Linked DNA regions of Homo sapiens. The protein of the gene in region 1 purifies or fractionates together with the protein of each later gene. This does not show direct contact. Each region holds a gene or a part of one and is shown on either strand. Other genes may lie near its edges.

Region 1 (5,365 bases):
CATGAGGTTCACCTGCCTTAGCCTCCCAAGTAGCTGGGATTACAGGCATGCACCACCATGCCCGGCTAATTTTGTATTTTTATTTTTAGTAGAGACGGAGTTTCTCCATGTTGGTCAGGCTGGTCTCGAACTCCCCATCTCAGGTGATCCGCCTGCCTCGGCCTCCCAAAGTGCTGGGATTACAGGCATGAGCCACTGCGTCCGGCCAAGACTATGAATATTTTTATGTCATTGTCAGTTAAAAAAGCATAATTCAAAACCACACATTCACTGTGATTACAGCTAAATAAGAATTAGCATGCATGTAACACAAAGAGGGGAAAGGAATACAGAAGGAAAATAAAATCGATCTATCAGGGTAGTGGAATGATGGGAAGATTTTTCCACCTAAACTGTACATTTTATTACTTTCAGGGTTTAAAAAAAAGTATTCATAAAAAATGCTACTGCCTCAAGATAAAATATCAATTGATACAGAAAAGATGAGTTAAGATTTCAATCCAGAGGCTAGTGTCTGCCTAAGAGAGAACAAAACGAGCCTGTCATCTGTTCTCAGCCCATCATGTTTCCCATGTGTCCTTATACATTTTAATGATTAAAGAATGAAATAATGATTAGTGTGAATCTTGAATTTACATGAACTAATCCAGGGAAAGCAACCTCAGGAGGCATGGCATAGGTATTTTGTTCCAGAGAGCATTTTGAAAAATACCACCAAAGAAAAAGAAGATTGTATAGCAATTTTTTTCTTTTCTCCAGCCAGTTACTGTATTTTCATGTTATAATGAAATCAGATCTCATTTATGGTAGTGGGACCCTTTATATATATGTAGGTAAGGTAGCATGGTGTTAAAGGCCATTTCATATTTATCAAAATGATATCAAATCTACTGTTCCAAAATGATCTGGTTGCTTTGCACATTTAAACGTAAATGTTTAACATTTTCAATTTAGAGTGAGTCTCAGAAATTTCTGGATCCCATTATCAGAAATTAATATTAGTGCTATATTTCAATAAAATAAGTACAAATTAGGAGATTTTAGTTTGATCTTAGATTTTTTTTTTAACCTGGGAGATATGAAAAGAACTTGTATATGGTATAGCAAACATTTTTCAGCCTTGAATCAGAAAAAAACATTGCAGCAACCACAGGGAGAATTCATTATATTTTTAGGAATGTGTTTTTCCTTCTTTTCTTTGACGTGATTTGTATGATGTTGTTGAGTCTGGACTTTTTATAATGCTGGTCTCTCAATTAACTGAGATGAGAACTGATTTAGTAACGGTAAGCACCGTTGCCAAAGACCTGCTGGCAACAGCAATTTTCTCAGGCATTTCTATTTCCTGGGGTGGTAACTGTTACAAAAGAAGCTTTTTCAGACCAGGTTTGGACTGTGAGTTCAAGATGGAGAGCATCTCCTATAATTGCCTGTCTTGGCCTGGTATAGAGTGACTTTCTTTCAGAAGTTTGAGGTGGAAGATCCAGCTGGTTATGCTGAAAGTACTGTTGAGTGGATTCTAATTCCTTGGGAGGTCTTTCGAGTGCTTTTTCCTATAATAGTCCATTTCAGTGAATGAATAGATATTAGGCATTTGGCCCATTCTAGAATTCTAAAAGTTGGAAGGGTCCTTCAGTTACCTTTTTTTCTCATAGGAAAAACAAAATGTGACTGGGTTGAGTATTGAATAATGTTCTTTATGTTCTTATGCCTCTACTGGAAACAAGTGGGATTTTTCATTAGTTTGTTCACATTAGTATGTTAAGGCTTTCGGACACTCAGTACTAGTAATTCTGAAACAGAATCACAAAAGAATAATACTGCACAGTATCTTGGGGATGGGGGAAAAAGCTTGGTGCAATTTTCATATAGAGGATTTTACAATGTTCTACCCCCCCCCCGAAATTAACATTTAAGGGAAAGCCAAGTTTTCTTGCTAGCCAGATACATTGCAGGATTTTTGGGTAATTTTGTCCTTATTTTGGCAATTCCAATCGAAAGCTTGTTTTTCTTCTCCCTCTAATTTCATCTTTCAAGCTCTATACTACATAATGTTTTTTTAAAAGTAAAGGTTGTTTTCAGAAGTAAAAGCAGTCTCTCTTCTGTAGCTCAATAGTGGCATACCAGCCAGCTGGAGACAACAGTCACACCTTTGATGTCACAGCGATGTTCAAGTCTATTGGGATCTTCCTTGGAATCTTCAGTGGATCTTTTGCAATGGGTGCTGCTACTGGAGTGGTGACAGCTTTAATATCCTTTTGTTATATTTATCTTTTCTTGTTAACATAATATAGTAGTTGAATGCTGTATTCCGTTGTTTTTCCTAGTTCTATGATTAGAATTATGTTAGAATTATTAATCTTATAACTAAGTACTTGGTTTGAAAACATTAAGCAACAGTCTTTGCCAATAAATAAATAAAAGAACTGTATTGTTCTGCATAGGGTTTGGTGCCCTAAAACTTTCACTGCAAGTGTATAATTAGAGATGATATCTCTCTGAGGGTGAATTTTATAGTTGTAGATTAAATAGCTGTAAAGGTAGACATATTCCAAAGAGCCTCTGGGTGTTCTGTGTTGCTGGTCAGCCTGGCAGTCTTTTGCTCTTTGTTTAATAGGACAAATAGGAAATGTACAACAGCGACGCCGAATGAACAAAATGTGTTTCCTTGGTTAGGATATGTAAGAGTTCATCTCAGCTCTCCCGATTTTAAACTTTGTGCTCTAGAGCCCTGGACGGGAAGCCCAAAGGACCTGAGTTGTAGTCCTGGTACTACCACTTAGTCAAGTTATTCTTGTGTTCATGCAAAGGCCATTTTATCCCGGACTTCACCACCATGCAATATATCCATGTCATAAAACTGCACTTGTGCATCCTGAATCTATAAAAACAAATTTTATTTTTATTTATTTATTTGTTTTTTTGAGACGGAGTCTCACTCTTTCGCCCAGGCTGGAGTGCAATGGCACGATCTCGGCTCACTGCAACCTCCGCCTCCCGAGTTCAAGCGATTCCCCCGCCTCAGCCTCCCAAGTAGCTGGGATTACAGGTGCGCAACACCACACCCAGCAAGTTTTTTTATATTTTTAGTAGAGATGGGGTTTCATCATGTCGGCCAGGCTGATCTCGAACTCCTGACGTCAAGTGATCCACCCACCTCGGCCTCCCAAAGTGCTGGGATTACAGGCATGAGCCACCGTGCCCGGCCTAAAAACATGTTTTAAACCCCCCACCCAAAACAAAAAGCCAGAAGGCATGTCTGGATCACCTGCTACATGTGCTGTGCTCTGTGTATCAAAGCTAAAGAAGACAAACATGACCTCTGCCTCCCTGGTGCTTTCGATATAGTGGCAGACACAAACATGCTAGAAGCTTTGACACTTCACCTCTTTGGATCTCAGTGTAGGAAATTGGAGGGTGGGGACGGTAGGAAAGAGGAGTGGGACTAGATGATGTCTAAAGAGTTTCCAGCTCTGGCCTGGTGCAGTGGCTCGTGCCTGTAATCCTAGCACTTTGGGAGGCCATGGCGGGCGGATCACAAGGTCGGGAGATCGAGACCATCCTGGCCAACACGGTGAAACCCCGTCTCTACTAAAAATTCAAAAAATTAGCCGGGCATGGTGGTGGGCGCCTGTAGTCCCAGCTACTCGGGAGGCTGAAGCGGGAGAATGGCATGAACCCAGGAGGCGGAGCTTGCAGTGAGCCGAGATGGTGCCACTGCACTCCAGCCTGGGCGACAGTGCGAGACTCCGTCTCAAAAAAACAAAACAAAACAAAAAAGTTTCCAGCTCTAAAACTTCTATGATACTTGTATAAAACAGATACGTTATTCTTTGTCAAGGACTTCTTAGTTTGGTATACTTCAGCCTTGTGCTGGAAGAGGCTTCTTTTATGGCTTTTTATAAGTGAACTGAGGCATAAAGCAGCAGTAAAAAGAGTTCTGAAGGTGATGCCAAGAGTGATAGTATCTCTTCCCCATTACAAGTTCCTTGAGGGTAGAAAGTATATCTTGTTAATCATTTTGTTGTAGTGCCTAGTTGTAGAAATGACTCTAGATTCTAGCCTGAGATTGGTCGTAACTTGGCACAGGCCCTTCCACTGTCAGCTAACAAATACTTGTTAAACTAGTATAAAGCAGTGAAGTGCCTCAATTTCTTCATCATGGAATGAATGCTCTATATCATAGAAGTGGTAGAGGATCAAATTCGTGTAAAATCTCTTGGAAATTATGTATTTTTATAAATGTAAATTGCTACAATTATGGAAGCTGTCTAGCTTTGGGTCTCAGATTAATAGAGGTGGCATGTTATAGATCTGATCTGTTACTCCCGTCTCTATCTATCCTTTACTGCATGGTTTCTGGCAAGGTGTGTGATACCCGTGAAACAATTGGAGTGGCTAAGCCGTAAGGCTTCCTCACTGAAGGGAAGGCAGCTGACTCCTCAGTAAGATGCTCATTTTAAAAGTCTCCCTATTCTGGTGGTACCTTATTCTGAGATTTCTGTGTTAGAGAAGCTAGAGAACCTTTCTTTCATGGTTGCCTTGCTTAAACTGTTATTTTTTCTAGTCACACTTTTGTGTTACAAGATCTCATTACTAGCCTTAACAGTCTTACGTGACAAAGTTCACCAAATTACGGGAGTTCCAGTTGTTGGAGACAGGCCTGTTCTTCTTGATGTCCTGGAGTACCTTCCTCTTGGCTGAAGCATGGGGCTTCACAGGTAGGTGACTTGCTCCCTTTGATTGTCAACCCTTAAAAGGAGTGACTTTGCCAGTCAATTTTGCTCCAAGTGGATCAGCTCCGTTAGTATTTGAACATACTTATTGTGGTTGGGATTTAGGTTGTTGCTTTAGAACATAAAAAAAAATTTTCAGTGGAAGTGGTTCCTCTTAACAAAGTAAGTCACAAATGAGAATTTCCAGACAAAGCCTATAATCTACTGTGAAGAAAGAACCTCAGTATAAAAGGTGGGAACCATCCTTTTATGTGAACTTGGAATTTGTTGTCTTTATAGGTGTAGTTGCAGTATTGTTTTGTGGCATCACACAAGCACATTATACGTATAATAATTTGTCCACGGAGTCTCAGCATAGAACTAAACAGGTAAGAGGAACTTTATAGTTTGTGAATAGGCTTTTCCTTCTTTCAGCAAAATAGAAGTCTTTTTTACTAAAAAAAAAAAATAGTCTTTGATCTGTTCAAGATGCTATCTACTCATTTTGGCTCCTCTTCCTTTGACTCTAAAAGTAGGTGGGATTGGCAAAATGAAGAATGACAGCATTTAGGGTGGAAATAGATCAGCAGAATAGCCAGAGACTGTTACTATTGTGGCTTCAATAACCAGTGAAGTAGCTTCCCTTTTTC
Region 2 (3,500 bases), on another chromosome or scaffold:
ATGGTTTATTCGAAAGGGCTTATAAACATTTTCCTCTTGTATTTAAGTGTTTACTTAGAGATTGCTTAACTGCTTAAAGAAAGAAGCTAGAAAACTAATGTTGAGATTTTAGAAAATAATTTGAGGTGAATCATAAAGCAAATATAGAAAGTTTCTAAAATTGTAAAATTATGAAGTCAGTAGATATGATTTTATTTAAAAATTGGTTTGCATATGACTTTTTAGGAACAGTTATCATATGATGAAAAGTAAGCTTTACATTAACAAGTGCAGTAATTCTACAGGTAGTATCTATGATGGGAATGAAAAGAAAACCCCTGATTATCCAAGAATTGCATTTTAAACACAAATTGGATTTCCTTATAGAGGATCTTTTCTTCCTAATTGATATATCAGTGAAGATAGTTTTGGCTTTAAAATCGATATGATGTTTGGCATAGAATTTAAGGCATTAGCAGAAGAGTTACATTTTGCTCTTTGTTCAGCAAATATATATTGAGTATCTACAGTGTGTATCATTCTCGTTTAGACACTGGGAACACACCATGGACAGGACACAAAATCTTCACCCTCAGAGAACTTAGATTTCAGTAGATAACACAGACGATAAATAAATAGTTGTAGAAAAATTTAAGGTATCGCAATATGTTTGTCTATTTAAAATCAGTCTACTGTCTACCATTAATAAAGATATGATTATACTGGTAAACAGAAGTGGTTTGGGAATCACTGTTTGTAATTCTCATAAAGGGAAGGTGTTTACCTAATACTTGGATGCAGTTCAACCTTGTTAACACCAGAGGGTATTGTAGACTTCTGGAACAGCTCAATGATCCAAGAACTTCAAGGTGAAAACATATTATCTCAGGGTTATCTTTAACATTTCATGCTCTCTAACGACGGATGCAATTGTAAATTTCCCCGTATTTTTTCTTTTACTTAATAAATACAGAATAGTAGCAGAATAGGTTTCCTTTATTTTATAAATTATGAAATAACTTTACAAAATAGCAAATTGTAGCCATTTTAAATTATTATGCAGCAAGGTTCAGTTTTATTACTTACGCTAATAAAATTGGAAGCAATTATTATAGAGGAGAGATGGTAATAAAATTAGTCATTTTGAAGTAGAAAACAAGGCATGGAGTTTTTTTCATTTTAAATTTGTGCTTGATCCAAATTCTTTTTGAGTTCAATTCTATTTCTTCATCTCCTCCTCTAAAGGACTCTTACATGCAACTGAGTGAAGCCTATAGGGTTGAAAAGTATGACAGATACCTATCAGTTGCTGCAACTATAAAAATAGACTTCCCAAAGTATTTAATATCCTTTGTTCAGTAGGAATTTCTTGGGGCCATTAGAAGATATTTTCAGTAACTTGGGGAACTATTTCTTGTAAGTGGATTATCTAAACTGGTATCAACAGTGTTATTAATCCCCCCCCAGATTAGACTATTTAAGGCAATTTTATGTTTTTATTTAATGGAAAGTTGAATTTCACTATTAGGATTAATCTTATCATGATATTAATAAAGTAGGTATAATTAAAGGGATAATAATAGCTACCATTTTAAAGTAACTCTTAGTGCCAGGCATTATGCTAACTACATCTGTTGCCACTTTTAACTTATTTACCTTCTAATGGTTTCTATTTTAGAGTTTTAATAATGTAAAAATTTAAACATAGAGTAATTTTCTTGGGAATAGGCAAAATTATTAGAAATAATTCTAAATCTCTAATTACTGAAGCTACCCATGTAAGCAATTAAAAATGATGAATTTTCGATTTGGAAATACGGGGTGTTAAAAAAATTTAGTACTGCCTACTCTGTTCCTTTGTTTGACACCTTTACATTGTCTCCTCTATGAAACCTCACCTTACCCCCTCCTCACCATGTCAGTATATACTATGACCGGATTGTGCAGTAATAGCTTTCTGTTATTAGATTCACATATTAGTTTTGGTCAGTTTTAATTTTTGCTGACACAGAGTGTGCCCTTTTTAAATAAGTACATTCTGACTCTAGTTTCTGAATGGTTTATTTGTATTTATTTTATTTTCTGAGTTTTTACTGTGTGAAAAATGTTTCATCTCTATTCTATTCTTGTGAGATCTTAGATGCAAATTTTCTGTCTCATTTCCGTAGGACCGGATTTTAAAATTCTGTGCACAGACATTTTTGCTTTCTCCATTACATATGACCAAGGAAATTTATACAAGCTTAGGTATGTTTGTGAAAACATTTAAAAATGTTTTTTGTCATTTGCATGTACTTAAGAATGGATAGGAAATAATTTTTTTCAGAAAGCACTGTAAATGAATGATGTAATTTTATGTTTTCCCTTTTTTTTCAGCTAAGTATTTGGAGTCATACTTTCTTTCTAGGGAAAATCATATTCCTACTCTTTCAGCTGGTGTAGATATAACTAATCCTAATATGACTCGCTTACTTAAAAAGGTATCCATTTACTACAATATGCTTTCATTTTTATTTATTTAGTTTTATATTTGAGGATGCTAATTTTTTGAGAACTATTGTGCACTGCTTTGTAGGTTCGTCTTCTAAATGAATATCAGAAAGAAGCTCCATCTTTCTGGATTCGTCATCCAGAGAAGTAAGTCCCCTCCCAATGTATGCCAGCATAAAACCTAGCGGTGTTACTGCCCCATATACGTTTCAGACAGAAAGAGTAAAGACAGTCTTAATGGACTTACCTGATTGGGAAGGGATTAATAAAATTTTTATTTTTATTTTTCTTCAGCTTGTCATGTTTTATACTTAGCTATGTGAATTACTGTATACAGGTACCACTTTACATCATTTATCACAAGGTAAAAAAAATGTAGCATTAGTTTTTTTTTTTTTTTAATGTATCAGTGATTTGAAGGTCTGCGTTAGGTTCTTATTGGTCTTTGCTATTGCATTTTGGACAAGTTCCTTAAATATTCTTTAAACTTTTTCCTTTCAGCTCTAAAATTTATACTAAGTTGTAAGATAATCTGTGAGTCTGAAAAGGAAAGTTAAATTCACAGATCCAGTGTTGAAGTAGAAAGAACCTGTAGTTAAAGCAGAAACATTGAGTATGAATCCTACCTGTCATTTACTGAAATAGAAAAAATGTTTCTGAAGATTATATGCTACTTTATCATTCCATGAATATAAAGTATACCACCAGAACTATATGTGTAATTGTATTTCTTTTTTCCCAAACTTTAAGGTATATGGAAGAAATTGTGGAGAGTACTTTGTCCTTGTTAACAGTTAAACATAATCAAAGCCATGTTGTCTCACAAAAGATTTTGGATCCGATCTACTTTTTTGCATTAGTTGATACCAAGGCTGTGTGGTTCAAAAAGTGGATGGTAAGGAAAAATAGAATATTTTTATACCTTTTAGTGCATTGCTATATCATTTTAATAAATAGTTAATGTTTGAATACTGTGTGCTAAGAGTTCTAATCACTTTTACATGTGTTAGCTCATTTATTTCTTATAAAAC
Region 3 (3,500 bases), on another chromosome or scaffold:
CATAAGTGCAGACAGTGCTGACTCTCCCAGGAGTTTACTCGTGAGTAGGGGTGGCAGAGAAGCCATGTGTGTAAAAATGCAAGGTAGAAAGGGCTTTGTCTCACTGATCCTGAGGAGCAAGGTAATAATGTGGGCTAAGGAGATCGAGGTCAAGGAGGTGTCACCCAGGTGTGGCTTTGATGAATGGGGTGTGATTTGAAGATATGAACCAGGGCACAGGATAGGAGGCAGGAAAGACAACAGGCTGGGGAATAGCAGTGAGTTCCTTAGTTATGCTGGAGCTATGCTATCCAGTACGGTGGCCAGTAGCCCTATATGGCTATTTAAATTACAACTAAATCAAGTAAAAAATTTGCTTTCTTATTCCTACTGACCACACTTCAAGTACTCAAGTGGCTAAGTGGCTGCCGTATTAGACCATGTGGTGTCGGATATTTCCATCCTTGCAGAATGCCCTCTTGGCTGGTGCTGGGCTAGAGTGCTAGGGGGAGATCAGGGCAGACGGCAGAGCACCTTGAGTGCCTGCTAAGGGATCTGGACTTTATCCTGGCTAGGAAAGGTCCAGGCTAAGGAAAGAGCTGAGCAAGGAGGGACACCGTCAGAACTCTGGTCTCAGCATGTCACGCTGACAGTACGGAGCAGGTTGGATCTGTGGGAAGGGAGACTGGAGGAGGGTGACAGCGGGAGGCTGTTCAGGCAGGACATGCTGGCTGCTTGAACTAGGCCAGAGGCTGGAGAAGTTGCCGGTGGCTATGAGGACACTGCCCAGGTGCGACGGAAGAGGGTTTAGCATTACCTGGGAATGCAGAGGGAAGTGAGAGATGCTGGGCGCTTGGAAGAAGGGGGATGCCAGGGACAGAAGTCCAGAATATTCAGCCCAGGCCTGTGAGTCTGACGTCCAGGTGAGCTGCTAAGGAGTAGCCCTGCTGGCAGAGCCCCGGCCGCGCTGGGCCTGAGAGCCAGGCTGGCACTGTGGATGTGGCATCGCTCGTGAAGCCGCAGATTACCCAGAGCACTCTGGATTGGAGGTCCGTGCTCCATGGTGAGGCCTGCGTCTGCCTGGCTGCCATCCTCCCTGCACTGTGGATCCATGTGTGAGGGGAGACATGGCTGATGGGAGTGGGTTGCTCATGATAGTGTTATGTGAGCAAGGAACTAAAAAGTAGAGAAGAAACAGCTTAGTGAAGTAGCCCTCTGCGTTAGGGGAGACGGCAAATGTCCACACTTGAAGGGTTAGCGGAACCTCGCCTGGAGCCAGGCGTGCCCTTGAGTCCAGGCACACCAGGAAAGGTCTTTCCAAAACAACTGACCTGGGTGTGCTTTTATCCTGCCTCGTCCTCTCCCCTCAGCCTGGCTTTGGTCCCTCACCAATATCTCGGGTCAATTTTGCAGGTCCAAGATAGCCACTCTACCAGCTACCCATCCCTCCTCAGCCACCTGACCTCCATGTACCTGAACGCCCCGGCGCTCGCTCTGCCTGTAGCCAGGATGCAGCTCCCAGGCCCTGGTCTGCGCTCATTTCATCCTCTGGCTTCCTCACTGCCCTGTGACTTCCACCTGCTCAACCTACGTACGCTCCAGGCTGAGGTGAGTGTCCCTCAGCGTGACATGCTGAGAGCAGAGTTCTGATGGTGTCCCTCCCTGCTCAGCTCCTTCCTTAGCCTCCAGGATGAGGTCCAGACCCCTTAGCAGGTATTCGGCTCCAAACCTCCAGGACCAGGTTTTGGCCTTTCCTTACCCACACGCCTCCCTGTGCCAGCACTGCCTCTGGGCAGAGGCGCTGCTGCATCTCCGATCTCTGAAAGCCCTGCGCCCACTTCCCTGGGCACTGTCTGTCATCCAGGAGGACACCCTACCCTCGGCGGAGACCGCACTCATCTTACACCGCAAGGGTTTTGACTGCGGCCTGGAGGCCAAGAACTTGGGCTTCAACTGCACCACAAGCCAAGGCAAGGTGAGTAGGGTGGGGAAACAGAGCACCTAGGAATGGCAGGCATGAGCTTGGTAAGACTGGGCTGAGATTCGGTGACAGGCTGGGAGAAGAAAGTGTCACTCCAGGGCTTTCTGGAGAGAAGGGGGGAAGCTGTAGACATGTTTTCAGAGCTCCGGAGGCCTGGCAGGGGGAGTTCCAGACAAGGTAGATCGCTTGAGAACTTTTGTTCCCTGAGCAGGGACCTCTATCAAGCAAAGTGGAAAACACCAGAAATAGAAAACCAGAACCCATCCTGTTGTTACTTTGTAAGCTCATATCAGCCGGCACTGATAAATGTCCCCGGGTGCCAGGTCCTCTGCTGGGCTCCAGTGTTTCAGAAGTGAACCAAGACATGGTCACTGTTTTCACAGAGCTCACAGCTCAGTGGAACGGTTCTTACCCAGAGATCTGTAGGCAGGCTTTAGGGTTGAGCAAATCTCAGCAAGCCCGTGAGACTGGATGCACACTCATGTGTAAGAAGGCATGGTGTTGCTGAGAGGGGCCAGCCGGAACTGGAGTGCAGTGGCGTGATCGCAGCTCACTGCAACCCCCGCCTCCTGGTTCAAGTGATCCTCCTGCCTCAGCCTCCCGAGTAGCTGGGATTACAGGCGCCTGCCCCCACGCCCAGCTAATTTTTATATTGTTAGTAGAGACGGGGTTTCGCCATGTTGGCCAGGCTGGTCTCGAACTCCTGACCTCAGGTGATCCACCCGCCTTGGCCTCCCAAAGTGCTGGGATTACAGGTGTGAGCCACTGCCCCTGGCTGAGATTCTTAAAGAGGTACCAAATTGTAGATGAACAGCCACATTCTTTAGTGTCTCGGCACCTAGCACAACCCTGCCCCTTCTCTGCTCTCCACAGGTAGCCCTGGGCAGCCTTTTCCATGGCCTGGATGTGGTATTCCTTCAGCCAACCTCCTTGACGTTACTGTACCCTCTGGCCTCCCCGTCCAACAGCACTGACGTCTATTTGGAGCCCATGGAGATTGCTACCTTTCGCCTCCGCTTGGGTTAGGGCTTCTTGTGGCCTGAAGAGAAAGTTCATTCACAGAGACTGCCTCTTAACATGAAGATCATTGGACAAGCCACACGGGTATCCCATCCCGATCTGCCTCCCAGAACTGTGACACACTGGGCTCTGCCCTCATTTTCTGTTTATTGCTGCTGCTGTGTTTTCGGCGCAACCCACAAACCCAGTGATGGGTAAATAGGGCAGACGCCAGTGAGATCAGGGAGAGAAGGCCCTTGGTCAGAGTGGGCAGTGCCAGGCTCTGCTTTGGGTTGTGAGTGGACACCCAACTGGGCACAGGCTCAGGCACCCATCCTTTTTCCAAACAGGGATATAGAAGTGGTGGAAGCAGACAGAAGAGGTAAGGGAGGCTAAGTGGGTAACAGCCCAGCATCAGGGTCACTGTGGCAACAGCAGGCTCTAGGGGAATCCTGTGGTTATGTAGAGACTCCATGTCCTGGTGTGATGAGCAGGATCAGAGTGACTCTGGGAGGACAGGGGTGGGGACCCAGAGTTAGCA
Region 4 (2,796 bases), on another chromosome or scaffold:
GGCACACCTTATCTCAGGAGAGCAGAGCAAATCATGAGCATCGAGCTCTCTGATTCTTAGCTCAGGTCCACGTCACCTTCTTTGCTTACTGTCTTTTTGGATACAGGGTCCTCTGTCAGGGCATGGGCTGGGGTCTCAGGGTCACAGAGAGGGTCTGGTGACTTGAGTCTGGGGGCTAACAAGATGTCCTGCCCACAGGTGGTACAACTGAAGGCTGTGTTCCCACACGGTGGAGGCTTTGTGCTGGCCTTTGAGTTCATGCTGTCGGATCTGGCCGAGGTGGTGCGCCATGCCCAGAGGCCACTAGCCCAGGCACAGGTCAAGAGCTACCTGCAGATGCTGCTCAAGGGTGTCGCCTTCTGCCATGCCAACAACATTGTACATCGGGTCAGTCTCAGCATAGGCCGGGCATGGGGTCTGGGGAGCTGACTTGGCTTGGGGATGGGGCTAGCCCTTGTAAAAGGTGTGATAAGAAGTTGGGACAGAGCTGGTCAAGGCCTCCAGGTAAGTGGCCAGGGCATGGCCCTGGAGGAGGTGGGGACCGGGGCTGACCTGAGTGGTTAGACTGCCAAGCCCGCTTGTCCCAAGGTCCTATGGGGGATTTGGAGGGACTGATGCTTCTTTTGGTACTCCCAGGACCTGAAACCTGCCAACCTGCTCATCAGCGCCTCAGGCCAGCTCAAGATAGCGGACTTTGGCCTGGCTCGAGTCTTTTCCCCAGACGGCAGCCGCCTCTACACACACCAGGTGGCCACCAGGTAGGGAGGGCCAGATCCCTTCCAGTCTTCTCCATGGGGAAGAGATGCTTCTGGGCCTTTTCTCCAGACATTGCTTGTGGGGCTGGGGTCACCTCCCCAGGCATCCTTTTCTCAGCCCAGTGCCTGCCAGCCCTCTTCCTCGCAGGTGGTACCGAGCCCCCGAGCTCCTGTATGGTGCCCGCCAGTATGACCAGGGCGTCGATCTGTGGTGAGACCCCTGTGGGTGGTCAAAGGGTAACATGGCTCATGGATTTCTGCTAGGCTCTGAGGTCTCTGAGCTGTTTGGTGGTCTTTTCCCTGGTGGGAGTTTAGGCTTCCTTAAGGGTGTCTTCCCTGGTTGGGGTATTCTGAGCACTTTGGGGTTGGGGTTCCTCACTATGATGTTTTCGAGCTGGGTAGGGGCCAGGTGGGATGAGAATGGTGGTCCCAGGTGGGAAGCTTTCTGGGCTAGATGGGGAGGTGGTCTGAGCCGATATGTGCTGGAGTTAGATCCTAGGATATGGCATCTCTGAGCTGGTCAGAGGCCTGTGTCCTTGGACATGAAAGCTCTGAGCTTGTTTTGCAGCAAGAAGATAGTTGGCAGTGCCCATGGGTCTGAGATTTGGGGCAGGTTTGCAGGTCTGCCCCAGAAGTGTCCTAGAGCAGGAGTCTCCGAGAAGTCTTGGAACAGCTGGGGCTTTGCTCTGGGTTCTAGGGTTGAGGGCTTTGAGGGTTCAGGGACTGGGCCTCTGGACGTGAGGCTCCAGGGCTGGCTTGTGGGGCCTTGCCCTGGAGTGCAGTGTTAGAGCTGCTCTGTGGGTGGGTCTGTGGTCCATGGTGGGAGATCTCTGACCTGCTTGGGGCTCTGTGTCCACAGGTCTGTGGGCTGCATCATGGGGGAGCTGTTGAATGGGTCCCCCCTTTTCCCGGGCAAGAACGATATTGAACAGCTTTGCTATGTGCTTCGCATCTTGGGCACCCCAAACCCTCAAGTCTGGCCGGTTTGTAGGGGCCCTTGGTGAGGTGGGTGTGGGGCAGGTTTACTCCACTCCCAACAGCAAGTAACCACTCCCTCCCCTGAACCTTCTCTCTCCTGGCCCCAACCCCCCTTGATGGACAGGGACCACTGTCCTGGCCCAACTCAGGGCTTCCTCCTTCCTGCTGTCATTTGGGTTGGGGTAGATCCTGTCCTTTGTCCCTTTTCACCCCAGTACACACATGTGCAGTGTCTCAGCAAGCTGTGCACAGAGTCGTCATCTGAGAGGGCAAGGGGATGGATGAAGGAATACAGGGGTGGGTGAGTGAATGAATGATGGGTCAGGGAGACACATGGATGGGAGAGCACCCCCCATGTGAGTGTGTGTTAGGGGCTGAGAGTTGACAGCAGAGAGCATGGCAAGGGTCGGGAACTACTCTCATTGTACCCTGTTCCTTCTCCCTGGCCCAGGAGCTCACTGAGCTGCCGGACTACAACAAGATCTCCTTTAAGGAGCAGGTGCCCATGCCCCTGGAGGAGGTGCTGCCTGACGTCTCTCCCCAGGCATTGGATCTGCTGGGTCAATTCCTTCTCTACCCTCCTCACCAGCGCATCGCAGCTTCCAAGGTAGGGGGAGAGGCTGTAGTCTCTGCTCCTTCAGCTCCCCTCCCCATCACCCTGGTACTCTGTACTTGGTAGCCATGTGACCCCATCACATCAGCGACCCTCAGAACCTGTGATTGGCATGGACCAGCACCAGACATCTGGAACCCAGGGGACAGGGGCCTTGGAGCAGGTGTGCCTCTCATGAGTAGACCCCACTGGACATCCCCAGACTTCCCCTGAGGGTGGCCCATACGAGGGGCATGCCCAACTCTCAGGAGAGCGCGTGTCCGGGAGTGCAGGTTTCTGGGCTGCCCCTGACCCTGTGGCAGATACAGTAAGAGAGTCACTGGGGACTCATTCCTTTATTCCATTAGCAAGTATTTTCTGCACATCTGGCACATGCAGGGATTGTCCTGGGCCCTGCACAGATGGTAAACAATCAGTCCTACCTCCGCGGGGCACTCCTGGTGGTGAGGT

The links.
Region 2: the proteins of SLC9A6 (region 1) and TBC1D32 purify together in Homo sapiens (affinity purification with mass spectrometry; 3 studies listed by BioGRID and IntAct, with this or other methods). This does not show direct contact.
Region 3: the proteins of SLC9A6 (region 1) and MAN2A2 purify together in Homo sapiens (affinity purification with mass spectrometry; 2 studies listed by BioGRID and IntAct, with this or other methods). This does not show direct contact.
Region 4: the proteins of SLC9A6 (region 1) and CDK20 purify together in Homo sapiens (affinity purification with mass spectrometry; 3 studies listed by BioGRID and IntAct, with this or other methods). This does not show direct contact.

What each region holds. Positions count from the first base shown.
Region 1 is NC_000023.11:136,008,334-136,013,698, forward strand, and holds part of SLC9A6 (sodium/hydrogen exchanger 6), read left to right. Parts: intron 1-2,108; coding exon 2,109-2,250; intron 2,251-4,615; coding exon 4,616-4,721; intron 4,722-5,015; coding exon 5,016-5,104; intron 5,105-5,365. UniProt on the Homo sapiens protein: Endosomal Na(+), K(+)/H(+) antiporter. Mediates the electroneutral exchange of endosomal luminal H(+) for a cytosolic Na(+) or K(+).
Region 2 is NC_000006.12:121,303,481-121,306,980, reverse strand, and holds part of TBC1D32 (protein broad-minded), read left to right. Parts: intron 1-2,147; coding exon 2,148-2,226; intron 2,227-2,355; coding exon 2,356-2,459; intron 2,460-2,554; coding exon 2,555-2,616; intron 2,617-3,219; coding exon 3,220-3,364; intron 3,365-3,500.
Region 3 is NC_000015.10:90,916,802-90,920,301, forward strand, and holds part of MAN2A2 (alpha-mannosidase 2x), read left to right. Parts: intron 1-1,392; coding exon 1,393-1,587; intron 1,588-1,843; coding exon 1,844-1,954; intron 1,955-2,833; coding exon 2,834-2,986; 3' UTR 2,987-3,500.
Region 4 is NC_000009.12:87,968,738-87,971,533, reverse strand, and holds part of CDK20 (cyclin-dependent kinase 20), read left to right. Parts: intron 1-198; coding exon 199-387; intron 388-636; coding exon 637-758; intron 759-888; coding exon of another isoform or gene 889-903; coding exon 904-966; intron 967-1,614; coding exon 1,615-1,738; coding exon of another isoform or gene 1,739-1,759; exon of another isoform or gene 1,760-1,760; intron 1,761-2,184; coding exon 2,185-2,340; intron 2,341-2,666; exon of another isoform or gene 2,667-2,796. UniProt on the Homo sapiens protein: Required for high-level Shh responses in the developing neural tube.